Linked DNA regions of Homo sapiens: region 1 is linked to region 2. A link means that fine-mapping ties the variant in region 2 to the expression of a gene that starts in the linked region. Tissue or cell type: tibial artery. Region 2 holds a variant in brackets; the other region holds the start of a gene. All regions are shown on one strand. Distances are from middle to middle.

Region 1 (5,750 bases), 65 kb after region 2:
CGCTCATTATGGAAGAGGGTTAGTGATAACAGAGAATTTCTACAAAGGTTGGGTCATTTTTCAAGGCTGCATACACGATGCTAGATATTATCACTTGAAAGTTTTACATTTCTTCACACCTCGAGTGCTTGGCCCAACACACACTGCTGGAAGTTTTCCACAGAGCTCTCCATCTGGCCAGCTCAGGCTTCAGAGAGGCAAAAAGCCTCTGTAAACCAGGGAAACTTGGTACATCCCACAAGACAATCCGAACTGGCTCCTGGTCCGGGGACTTGTGGGACGCAGTCCTGAATCATGCCTTACAGTAACTTACACTTTACCAAAATCTTTAATAACCAGTATCTCATTCCCTGCTTACAAAAGAATAGCCCAGTGAGACTGGTAAAGATGACTAGCCCAATTTTAAAACCAGGGAAATAAATAAGCTTTTAAAATGTAAAAGTAAAAATACAGATAAATAAAAGATTTAGGCCGGGAGTGTTGGCTCACGCCTGTAATCCCAGCACTTTGGGAGGCCGAGGTGGGCGGATCACATGAGGTCAGGAGTTCGAGACCAGCCTGGCCAACGTGGCGAAATCCCGTCTCTACTAAAAATACAAAGATTAGCCGGGCGTGGTGGATGGCGTGCGCCTGTAATCCCAGCTACTCCGGAGGCTGAGGCAGGAGAATCGCTTGAACCCAGGAGGCGGAGGTTTCGGTGAGCCGAGATCGTGCCACTGCACTCTAGCCTGGGTGACAGAGACTCCGTCTCAAAAAAATAAATAAATAAAAAATTTAAAAGTTTAGGTGCGCTTCCCCAACACAATCACTTGTCCCAAAAACAAGCACCGAACAAGTACCATTCAGAAGCAAATTGTAGTCCCTTTTGATGTTCATTTAAATACAGATGAAAACTTAATTATCAATGCTAACTCAATCACTGCTGTGCCAGATTCAGCATAAGATTTTGTCAGCACCTAAAATTCTGTATCTAGAGCTACAAGAGGCACGTTTTCTGCCAAATCTTCGTTATATTACATAATGAGAGGAAGCTTGGATTCTTAAAATTCACCTTTTCCCATCATTTTAACACCCTGTTCCAATCCCTTCTTTCACAGGATATTTTCTGGAGGTGAAAAGGAATAACTCATTACTTCTCATATTTTCCTGCCCACTTTCTTGCATAAATATTAAAAATAAAGGGGAAGGTAGGGTCCTGAACATCTCCCTAAAAGATAAAAAAGTTATTAAATGTGGTAAACAGAGCCTGGAGACCTAGCTTCTAGTTCTGCACTGACACAGTATCACTGCGTGACCTTGGGCAAATTACTGCAGTTCTGGGCCTCAGTTTCCCTCATCTGAACCCTAATGATGGTTAAGCCCTCTCCGCTCTTAAAGCACAGATTTTAGATACGTCCCCAGGGAAGCACAACTGTGAAGGAGTCGCCCAGACGGACTCCTTGGGCGGAGAAACGGCCTTCCACAAGCTCCGGCGGGGGGATTCACAGGGAGCTCAAGCTGCCCCAGGGAAAGCCACTGGGCAAACTTCAGGTCGCAAACAAAAACCTGTTGGCACCGACTCCTCTAGCAAAGGCCAGCCTCCCAACGCGCTCGGCTCTCGGCTCTAGGGGAGCCGCCCCACAGGGAGAGAGAGGAAGTCTCTCCTGGAAGAGGCCAGACCCCACGCACCCATTCACCCACCCGGATCAGCCGAGCAGGACCGCCGGGCCGGGTGGGTCTCTGCCATCCCACGCGGAACAAAAGGCAGCTGGAGCCTGGCTCTTCCGCCCCCGTCCCCGCTGTTCCGTGGGAGTGGGGGCTGGGGAGTGGGGAGCCTGGTCCCCAAGGACGGAAGGGGGCCCTGCTACAGCCCCCAGGAAAGGTGAGACGGGCGGGATCCCGGACAGAGATAAGGACCCCTCCCCCGATTCCCGGAGGGCGCCCGGACCGGGCTCTGCACGGGGGCTGGCGGGAGACCAGGCTGGGCTCAGGAGGAAGGGGCGCCGGGCTCGGGGAGAGGAGGAACGTGCTCTGGGGAGGGGGCGGGGTTGTTCCAAGATGAACGGGGCTCCAGGATCCGAGGTAGGAGTAAGGGGCGCCCTGGACTCTGGGGACATAAAAGGAGATGCTCGGTGATAGGGACGGGTAAGGGGGGAGATCCTTGCAGCGGAAAGCTGGATCCAGATGGGAAGGGGGCCATGCTCCAGTCCGTGGGGCGGGGCCTGGTTGGAAAGAAGGGGATCCCCCAGAGCCTGGCGTAGGGACCAGCGGGGCGGCAGGGGCGCATGCCCTGGCGGGGCTGGTGAGGTAGGGGAGCCTGTGCTCTGGGGGCGTCCGCGCCCTGGAGAGGGGGAGGGTCCTCGCCCCGGGGACTCGCTCTGGCCTTGGAGCCCCACGGGCTGTGGCTCACCTCTGCTCCTCCGGGCCGGCGTGGGTGCGCCGCTGCGGCCACCGGCAGCGCTCGAGAGGCGGGAGCGACCGTAGCCCGCGGAGCCGCCGCCACCGCCGCGTCTGGCTCAGTTTGACACCCACACACCAGCCAACATGGCGGCCGGGAGGGGGCGCGCCGGACGCGTGCGCGCGCCCTCAGGCCCCGCCCCCGAGGCCCCGAGGTCCCGCCCCCACGCCCGCAGACCACGCCCCTGCGACCCCGCCAGAGCCCCTCCCTAGTGGCCCCTGCGCGGCTTCCCCTCCGCCTCCTGCGCTCCAGGACCCCACGCGGACGACCCACCCTTCCGCAGCGCCCCACAGTCGACGCCCGAGCCCCCAAAAAACCCCCAATCCCGAGCGCCACACAAACCCTGGCAAATTAATACCCGAACGCGCGCACTCTAATCCCCTTCAGGCCACTCCACCCCGTACACACTCACGGCCCCCCCACACTCACGGCCGGGCAGCACGCGCAGACCCCGCCCCGTCAAGCAGAAACTCACGCTCCGGCCTGCCGGTTTCACTCAAAAACCTTGTTCAGTAGGAGAGACTGGAAGGGGGCCAGGGCCTGCCGGGCGCTGGTAGGGTTGGGTTCTTAGGCTACAAGTGTGTTCACTTTATGAAGATGCGCGGAAGTACACTTTGGATTTGTGCGCTTTTCCGTGCGTGTATTTCACGTCAATAAAATATACTCAAAAACGGAGAAGTCTCTAGGCTTCTTTAGGCTGCTCAAGGGGTTACCTAAGGGCACGAATGGCAAGGGGTTACCTACATGGCACGAAAACGGAAACCCTTGACTGGCGGGCACCCACAAAGCACCTCCTCTGTGCCAAGCCCTGTGCTGGGCACAGAAATGAGACAGCCCCAAATGCCTCGAATGAGAGTCCCGGAACTGGAGGGGCCAGAACTGGAGGCTGCACCTCAAAGCTGACTAACCTGCTCCAATCAGGGTGGGAGTCAGCAGAGACTTCTCACAGCAGGGGCGCGGAGCATGAGTCAGGGCTTGCTAGGTGGGCAGAGGGCACCATCCCTGTTGCCTGGGTGACATCAACACTCTGCCTAGCCTTGGCTTCAGGGAAGCTGTGGCCAGAAGTCTTCCTCTGCCCTAACTCACTGAGGGACCTTAAACAAGTCACTGTACTTCTCTGAGCCTCAGATTCCTCCTCCCTGTACAGGAACCAGGGGATGAAAGTATCCCTTAAGGTTCTAACAACCCAGGATCTGGAATTCCATTCTCTGGCAAAAAAAAAAAAGGTTGTATCTTTCCAGGAATTCATCTATTTATTGTAAGTTTTTTAGTGTGTGTGCATAGACGTGTTCATAATAGTTTTTGAGGGCTTTTTTGTGTTTGTATGGGGTCGGTGGTAATGTCCTCTTTGCCCTTTCTGATTATGTTTACTTGTATCTTCTCTTTTTTCTTTATTAGTCTAGCTAGTGATACAATAAATACGATAAAAATGGAGAGAGCTTGTAACACGTTTGCAAAACCACATAGCCACTTTTCCTTTGAAAAGTCAAACACTGGTAGCTCTAGATGCTAGAAACACTCTCCAGTTAACCACCCTTCCCACTGCTTGGTGCCCCTTCTCCACCAGCAGAGGGAATTATGCCCTATGTGCCTGCCTTGCAGCAGAAGCCGGAGCTCCCCGTTTTGAACTTGGTCCACCCTCATCCCAGAGAATGCCCTCAACCAGTCCAACATTCCTTGTGAGCCTCACCTCTTTACCCCATCTCCAAGGAAAGCAGAACTTTACACTGCAATCATGCTTCTGCCCTGAGTTTACAATGTCAGATGAGTTATAACACAGAGCTGATGCACAGCACGGGCGTGATGCTTCTAAATCAGCACTGTTCAGCAGAATTTCCCTCCACGATGGAAATGTTCTTTCTGCGTGCTGTCCGTAGGATAGCTACGAGTCACAGGAGGCCAGCGAGCACTTGAAATGTGGCTAGTGAGACTGAGGGGCTGAATTTTTTAAACTTCATTAAACTTTTATTAATTTAAATGTAAATAGCCATATGTGGCTAGATGCTACCATGCTGACCAGTGCTGGTCTAAAACCTTACCACAATTCCACAAGTGCACATTCTTTTTTTATTTATTTGTTTTGAGACGGAGTCTCACTCTATTGCCCAGGCTGAAATGCAATGGCACAATCTCAGCTCACTGCAACCTCCATCTCCCAGGTTCAAGTGATTCTCCTGCCTCAGCCTCCCACGTGGCTGGGATTACAGGCCCGCACCCCCACACCTGGCTAATTTTTGTATTTTTAGTAGAGACAGGGTTTCACCATGTTGGCCAGGCTGGTCTCGAACTCCTGACCTCGTGATCCTCCCGCCTCAGCCTCCCAAAGTGTTGGGATTACAGGTGTGAGCCACCGTGCCCAGCAAGGTGCACATTCTTGCTGTTCACATTTTACAGACAAGAAATTGAGGTTTGGAGATATGCTGGGGCTTGGCCACCCAGGCCCACTTTTCCATATGCAGAGCCTAATACTCCCTTCACTACCCACCTAGCAAGTGTGTGTAGCCGCACAGATAATATGCAAGCCTGGAAAGAGAACTGGATACAGATAATGAGATGATGAGCTAACCTACAGGACAGGAAGTGAGTTGGAGAATACCAGATTAGCCCAGGCTTGGGAAGTGGAGGAGGGTGTCCTGAGGCCGGAAGACCGCCACGTGCAAGGTCAGAGGGGACATTCTTGCATTCCTCAAAGTCATTTCTCTTTCCTGGACCCCCTCCTTGAAGCGTATCAGCCCCCTGGCATTCCTCTCTCAATTCATCCTCATGATGATCCCTTGACGTCAGCAGCCCTATTCCTATTTTAGATGCGGAAACTGAGGCAGCATGTGGCAGGGCTAGGATTCAATTCCAGGTTCTATGAGTCTAGAGCACATAAGCAGTCTTGCAGAGGAACTTGCAGGATAAGCTGAACAATTTCATCCGTGCCCAAAGCAGTCCATGGAAAACAGGGCTGGAGGAGACACTCTCATCTGCCCTTGCAGAGGTTTGGAGGTTGGTTCCAGGTGGATAATGGAGCAGACTGATGGGGGCCGGTTGGAGAGGTGTATTTCAGAAGAAAGAGCTGGCAGTGCAGGCCAGGGGTGTCTCTGGGGTTAGGGAAGGAGGGTTTCAAGCAGGAAGGGACTTTGGGGGAAAGACTGGCAGGCAGCAGACAGGGACAGACTGCATGCTGAATGAAAAGAATCACTTAGCACAGGTGCAGAACAGGCTCCCCGGGATCTTCACCAAAGGCTTGAACTCTATATTCAAAACTATTTGTCCCACAAAAAGAAACTTGTGTTGGCAATCCAGAAACACCTAATTTCTTGTCCAC
Region 2 (5,750 bases):
GTCACACACAGAAAGCGTGGCCCTTCCCAGGCCTCCGAGGAACAGGCCTGGGGTTGCTTTCTGCTGGGCTGACCTACTTCGAGGGAGGGGCTAGGGAGCCAGCACTGAGCACAGGGTCAGCGTCCACTGTCCAGTGGCCAGTTCTCTAGTTCAGCTAAGTTCCTTCCTTGTTACTGAACAGCAGTGAAACGCTTCCTCAATGTGGTGACATCATCCTGTGGTTCCAGGGGCCACTTCCTGAATCAGCAATGACCTTGGCTACTGAGGACGTTCCTGCCACTTCTCAACACAGGAGAGCCTCCAAGGCCCTTACTTTACCTCCTCGCAGGGAGATGCTGGGAAGGCTGCTTTTAGTCTAACGAGGCAAATTATAAAAAAGTTAAGTTCAGATTACACCAGGTTATTTATTTATTTATTTTTTGAGACGGAGTCTCACTCTGTCACCTAGACTGGAGTGCAATGGAGTGGTCTCAGATCACTTCAACCTCCACCTCCCGAGTTCAAGCGATTCTCCTGCCTCAGCCTCCTGAGTAGCTGGGACTACAGGCACGCACCACCACATCCAGCTAATTTTTGTATTTTTAGGAGAGACGGGATTTCACTATGTTGGCCAGGCTGGTCTTGAACTCCTAACCTCGTGATCTGCCTGCCTCGGCCTCCCAAACTGCTGGGATTACAGGCGTGAGCCACCCCACCCGGACTACACCAGGTAATATTTAACAGGAACATATATATATATGTGATGCAAAAGACAAAAAGGTGTATAATGAAAAATGCAATGAAGCATGACCACAGCCAGATCACTGTCCAGCCACAAGGTGGATGTGACTTTACAACACAGGGACAAACCACAAAGTTATTTTGTGCTGTGGCCAACGCTGGCACTATCGGTGGTGGGAGGGCTGCCTGTCAGGTGACGTCATACCCCCATCTATGACAGTCCCAGCAAAACGCTGATGTGCACAGAATCCAGACTCTAGCCGTGATTCCGGTTCTCAGGAAGCTCAGGGTGAGGGCCAGGCTGAGCATGGTGAGAGGCAGCAGACAGATCCAGGCCAGGGACAGACATCCCGAAGGAAGGCTGGCCCGGAGAAATGGAGAACGTGCTGCCATGACACAGACTGCAGGGACAGGATGGCCAGACTCAGCCTGGGGTCCTGGGGTGGACTCACATTAGGCTGATCAGCAGCAAGACACTTTCAGACAACTTGAAAAATGTGACCATGACCTCAGCGTGAGATGATGCTGCTAATTTCCCATTTTGTGAGGTGTGTGACTGTGTGTGTGACAGTGGCTGTGTGACTCTCCAGGAAGAGATGTGTACTGAAGCATTTAGGGGAGTAATGTGAGGATACCCACAACTTATTCTTAAATATTTCAGCATAAAAGGAAGTGAGAGCTACTCCTCTCATCCTGCCCCACTGCTCTCCCCAGAGGAAACAGCTGTTCACATTTTCTTGTGCTTCCACCCAGGAAAGCGACTGAACGCACACTCTGTGTGTGGATGCCTGTAGTGCGCTTCCGTCTCTGACACTCGCCCAGAGGGAACTCTTCCTCCCTGCCCTATGTGCTTCTCCCACCTGGGCCTGACCCCAGGCCGAGTGTCATCAGCCTGAGAGAGCAGCCCAGTGTGGCAGACGAGAGCACGGGCCCTCAAGTCCATGCCTGGGCTCAGATCTGGGCTCTGCCACTTCTTAATGCATGACCTTGGCCTAGGTCAGCTGTCCCCAACCTTTCTGGCACCAGACACTGGTTTAGTGGAAGACAATTTTTCCACGGCCAGGGGTGGGGTCGGGGATGGTTTCAGGATGATTCAAGCACATTACATTTATTGTGCACTTTATTTCTATTATTATTACATTGTAATATAGAATGAAATAATTCTACAACTCACCATAATATAGAATCAGTGGGAGCCCTGAGCTTGTTTCCTTGCAACTACACAGTTCCATCTGGGGGTGATGGGAAACACTGACCATCAGGCATTAGATTCTCATAAGGAGCATACAACCTAGATCCCTCACATGTGCAGTTCACAATAAGGTTTGCGCTCCTATGAGAATCTAATGCCACTGCTGATTTGACAGGAGGTGGAGCTCAGACAGTAATGCAAGTGATGGGGAGCGGCTATAAATACAGATGAAGCTTTGGGTCTGTGGCCCGGAGGTTGGGGACCCCTGGCCTAGGTGATTACCTTCTCAGTGCCTGTTTTCTCATCTGCAGAATGGGGACGGGAAACCGTCTCCCAGGGTTGTTGTGGGGAACGAACAAGAAGCGATGTGAAAATCACCCACTGCCTGTGCAACACTGTCTCTCGAGGAACCCTCCATCCATAAGGGGGTGCTGCCCCACTTACAGTCCAGGCTGAGGCCTAGGGGTGCAGTGACTGTCCCAAGGCCACCCAGCTGGGGCAGGTGGAGTCTGACCCTGAAGGTCTGGCTCTTCATTACCAACCCTTCCCACTGATGAGGACACCGGGGCCCAGAGAGGGTAAATGGCTGCGGCTCACAGCCGCCCAGGGGCAGGATGAGAACTCAGAGCCAAGACTCAGGACCTATGCCCCACGCTTGCTCCTAGCACCCTAAAGGGGCTTTGCACCCTCAGTCAGTTACATGCGCACACCCACACCAAGCAGGGCCTCCTCTAGGCCTGAGGAAAGTCCCTGTTCCCATGAGCTTGTGTTCTAGTAAGGAGAGACCATAAACAAATCTAAAAAGGAGGGACAGGGCAGGGCAGGGTGGGGAAGAGGAGAGCTTGCTCAGCTATGCTCTGACAGGAGGCGATGGCACAGAGCCCTGGAAGGAACGGCAAAAGGGCAGGGGCACTTCTGTTCTGAGAGCAGGGGACAGGCTCTGAGGCTAGTGTCAGCAGAGGCACCCAAGGGCACATGACCAAAGAGTGGTGGGGGTTCAGAAGCCGTCAGAGGTGCTTTGGAGAGTCTTAAGTGGGGCAGTGATGCCACTTGACTGGTCTAGGGAACTTGGGCCAGAAAAGTAGCTATGAAGGGGATGAGAAGTGGCCAGAGTCTGGACACATTTAATTGGGATCCTATGTATGACACCTGGTTCCTGAATCAGCTAGTGTGTCATGCTGCCACATGGTGTGGACTCAGCACTTACAGTGCCTTCTTCTGACCAGGGGTTATGGGCAGAACTGGGTCCCCCGTAAAGTAGGATGAAGAACATGACCTTATTTGTAAACAGGGTAGCTGCAGATGTAATTAGTGAAGATATAATTAGTGAAGATGAGGTCATACTGGAGCAAGATGGGCCCT[A/G]GAGTCAATAGAACTAGTGTCCTTAGAAGAGATAGAAACACAGACACACCAGGGGAGACTGCCATGGGACCATGGAGGCAGAGACTGGGGTGACACAGCAGCTAGCCAAGTAACACTGGGCCCTGCTCGCTTCCCATCCTCCCCCAGCACCTGCCACGCAGGCTCCTTCCTGCCTCGAGCCTTTGCTTGCCCGCTGCTCCCTCACACTGTGTATGCTGCTCGTGGTCCTCGAATGGGAAGGAGAACCGCATCCTCATCCCTAAGTATCAGCTCTAAGGCCACCTTCTCACTGCGCCTCCCCTGGCTGTGTTATCAGGCCAGTCTCTCATCAGACTGGGAGCTCCACAGGGCAGGGGGTCCATCCGTTTTGTTACTTAACACCTTGATACCTGGAGCTGGCCTTGGCGCACAGGGAGCACTTGGTGGATGTGGAGGCCAAAGCAGCTCCATCTTGGAGGCTAATTCACCATGCTGGCTTCTGATTAATCCCAGTTCCAGGAAGGCCTCCAAGATTGACAGTTTGCCGGGTGCCGGTGGCTCATGCCTGTAATCCCAGCACTTTGGGAGGCCAAGGCGGATGGATCACCTGAGGTCAGGAGTTCGAGACCAGCCTGACCAACATGGAGAAACCCCGTCTCTACTAAAAATACAAAATTAGCCAGGCGTGGTGACAGGCGCCTGTAATCCCAGCTACTTGGGAGGCTGAGGCAGGAGAATCGCCTGAACCCAGGAGGCGGAGGCTGCAGTGAGCCGAGATTGCACCACTGCACTCCAGCTTGGGCAACAAGAGCGACTCTGTCTCCAAAAAAAAAAAAAAAAAAAGATTTACAGTTTATTGTTTTTATGTAAGAGCACATACTTACCTTAAATCCTATCTTTAGGTCAAACTACCTTAATGTTATCATACTTCAAATATCCTACACATTCTTTCTGAACCACTCCTTCCCTATGGCATATAAGCCCTGGCTCTGGGGGCTAATGGCGTGGGATCTGACACCTTGTCTCACCACTTCCTGAGAGAAACATGGCTTCTGCTCCTAAGTCCCTGTTTCTTTCTAAGAAACTGGATTTGTCAGCCTCCTTCCTTGGCCCCTCCGCTTCTCCGGACATTGGGGGTAGATTTGCATAGACCTGCCCACCACGGAACCATGGGGCAGCTAGGTGGCACCTAGGCTGCAGCCCTGATCACCTGTAGCTGCATGTTCTAATCCGTTCAACTGCTTCCAGCCGGCCATCTGCCCAAGTGGGCGGAAAGCAGGGGCCACGTCAGCTTTACTTCTGGCACAAAGTAGGTGCTCAAACACCCATCAGATAATGGTCAAGTTTAGTTTCTGGTGAAAACAAATAATGGCTCTAACTTCTCCACTACCCCTCTGCAACACTGGTACCGCTGCCTCAGTTTACAGAGGAGGAAGCTGAAATACCAGGTGAAAAAAGGGAGAGCCCCAACAATGACCACGTTATGGCCCCAATGCAGGGCTGGTGAAAGAGGCAGGAGGGTAAAGCAGAGACAAAAGGCAGTCCATTCATTTGTCTGCATGAGTCAAATCCCATCCTCAGTCAGAAAAAAGCAAGTTGTGCCATTCTCTTCGGGCTGTTATTAAACTCTCTCCTACAGTAAGAGCACCAGCTTGTTGGGTGGGAAAGGAAGGACTTAGCCAAAACACTAAGCAGCTTTTTCTCACTGTCATTTACCTCAGGAGTCCCTGAGCTTCCTGCTGCTTCTGTCCATAGTGAAAGTAACAAAGCTACAGCCTGTCATTCTCTAGGTAGAGTGCTGGGGCAGGGGTCTCATCATGGCTGGGGACCAGCAGTAAGGAAAAGAGGACCTGCAGCCTCACCCTGAGCCACCCGCAGCTCTCCAGGCGTAAGCCAGGGTGGGAGGAGGGGTTCTGAAGCCCAGGCAGTGCCAGCTGAGGTGAGCGGGCACTTCAACAAAGATAATCATTTATCTCTTTTTTAATTCAATCATAAACTTCAAAGAAGTTAAATGCCTGCAACAATTTCTTAGAGTAATACTTATAAACAGGAAACTCATTTTTAAAATTAGTATTCTGATAGTAATTTTCATCTATTCAATTGGAAATAATCGATTACAAAATTATAGCACCTGCTGTGGGCTCAGGGGCTCCCAATTGAGCACTCTCCTTCACTGCTGGGGGGAAAGCATTTGTTTGGAAACAGTCTGTTTGGAAAACATTTGTCATGCTTCAAGAAACAGAATGTTCATACACTTTTCCCACTAATCTCACTTCTGGGAATTCCACATTGAAGAAATAATCCAAAGAATCCTTAAAAAAAGAAAAAAACAAGCTTTCTGTTCAAAGAAGTTTACCACAGCATTATTTACACTGGTGAAAATCTGAAACAAGTCTGATCATAAGAATTAACAGTGACAGGGCCACTTCTGGAGCATTTCTTGTGTGCAAGCTGGTATGTGAAGTGCATACATTATTAGCATATGTAACGTACACAA

What was found. PIP is the estimated chance that this variant, and not a neighbour inherited with it, causes the effect.
Region 1: it holds the start of EPN2, and the variant in region 2 is fine-mapped to the expression of EPN2 in tibial artery (GTEx, PIP above 0.99).

The regions. Positions count from the first base shown.
Region 1 is chr17:19,234,171-19,239,920 of GRCh38, reverse strand. EPN2 (epsin 2) reads right to left here and starts at 2,555. Exons shown (of 11, transcript NM_014964.5): 1 at 2,390-2,555. RefSeq lists a silencer at 2,178-2,647.
Region 2 is chr17:19,298,774-19,304,523 of GRCh38, reverse strand. The region is part of intron 4 of EPN2 (epsin 2); the gene reads right to left. EPN2-AS1 (EPN2 antisense RNA 1) reads left to right here. Exons shown (of 3, transcript NR_048576.1): 2 at 586-709. Among named protein-coding and RNA genes, the nearest start is that of EPN2-AS1, 4.6 kb to the left of the region's middle. RefSeq lists an enhancer at 129-328. The variant A/G (reference allele first, on the strand shown) is at 3,275.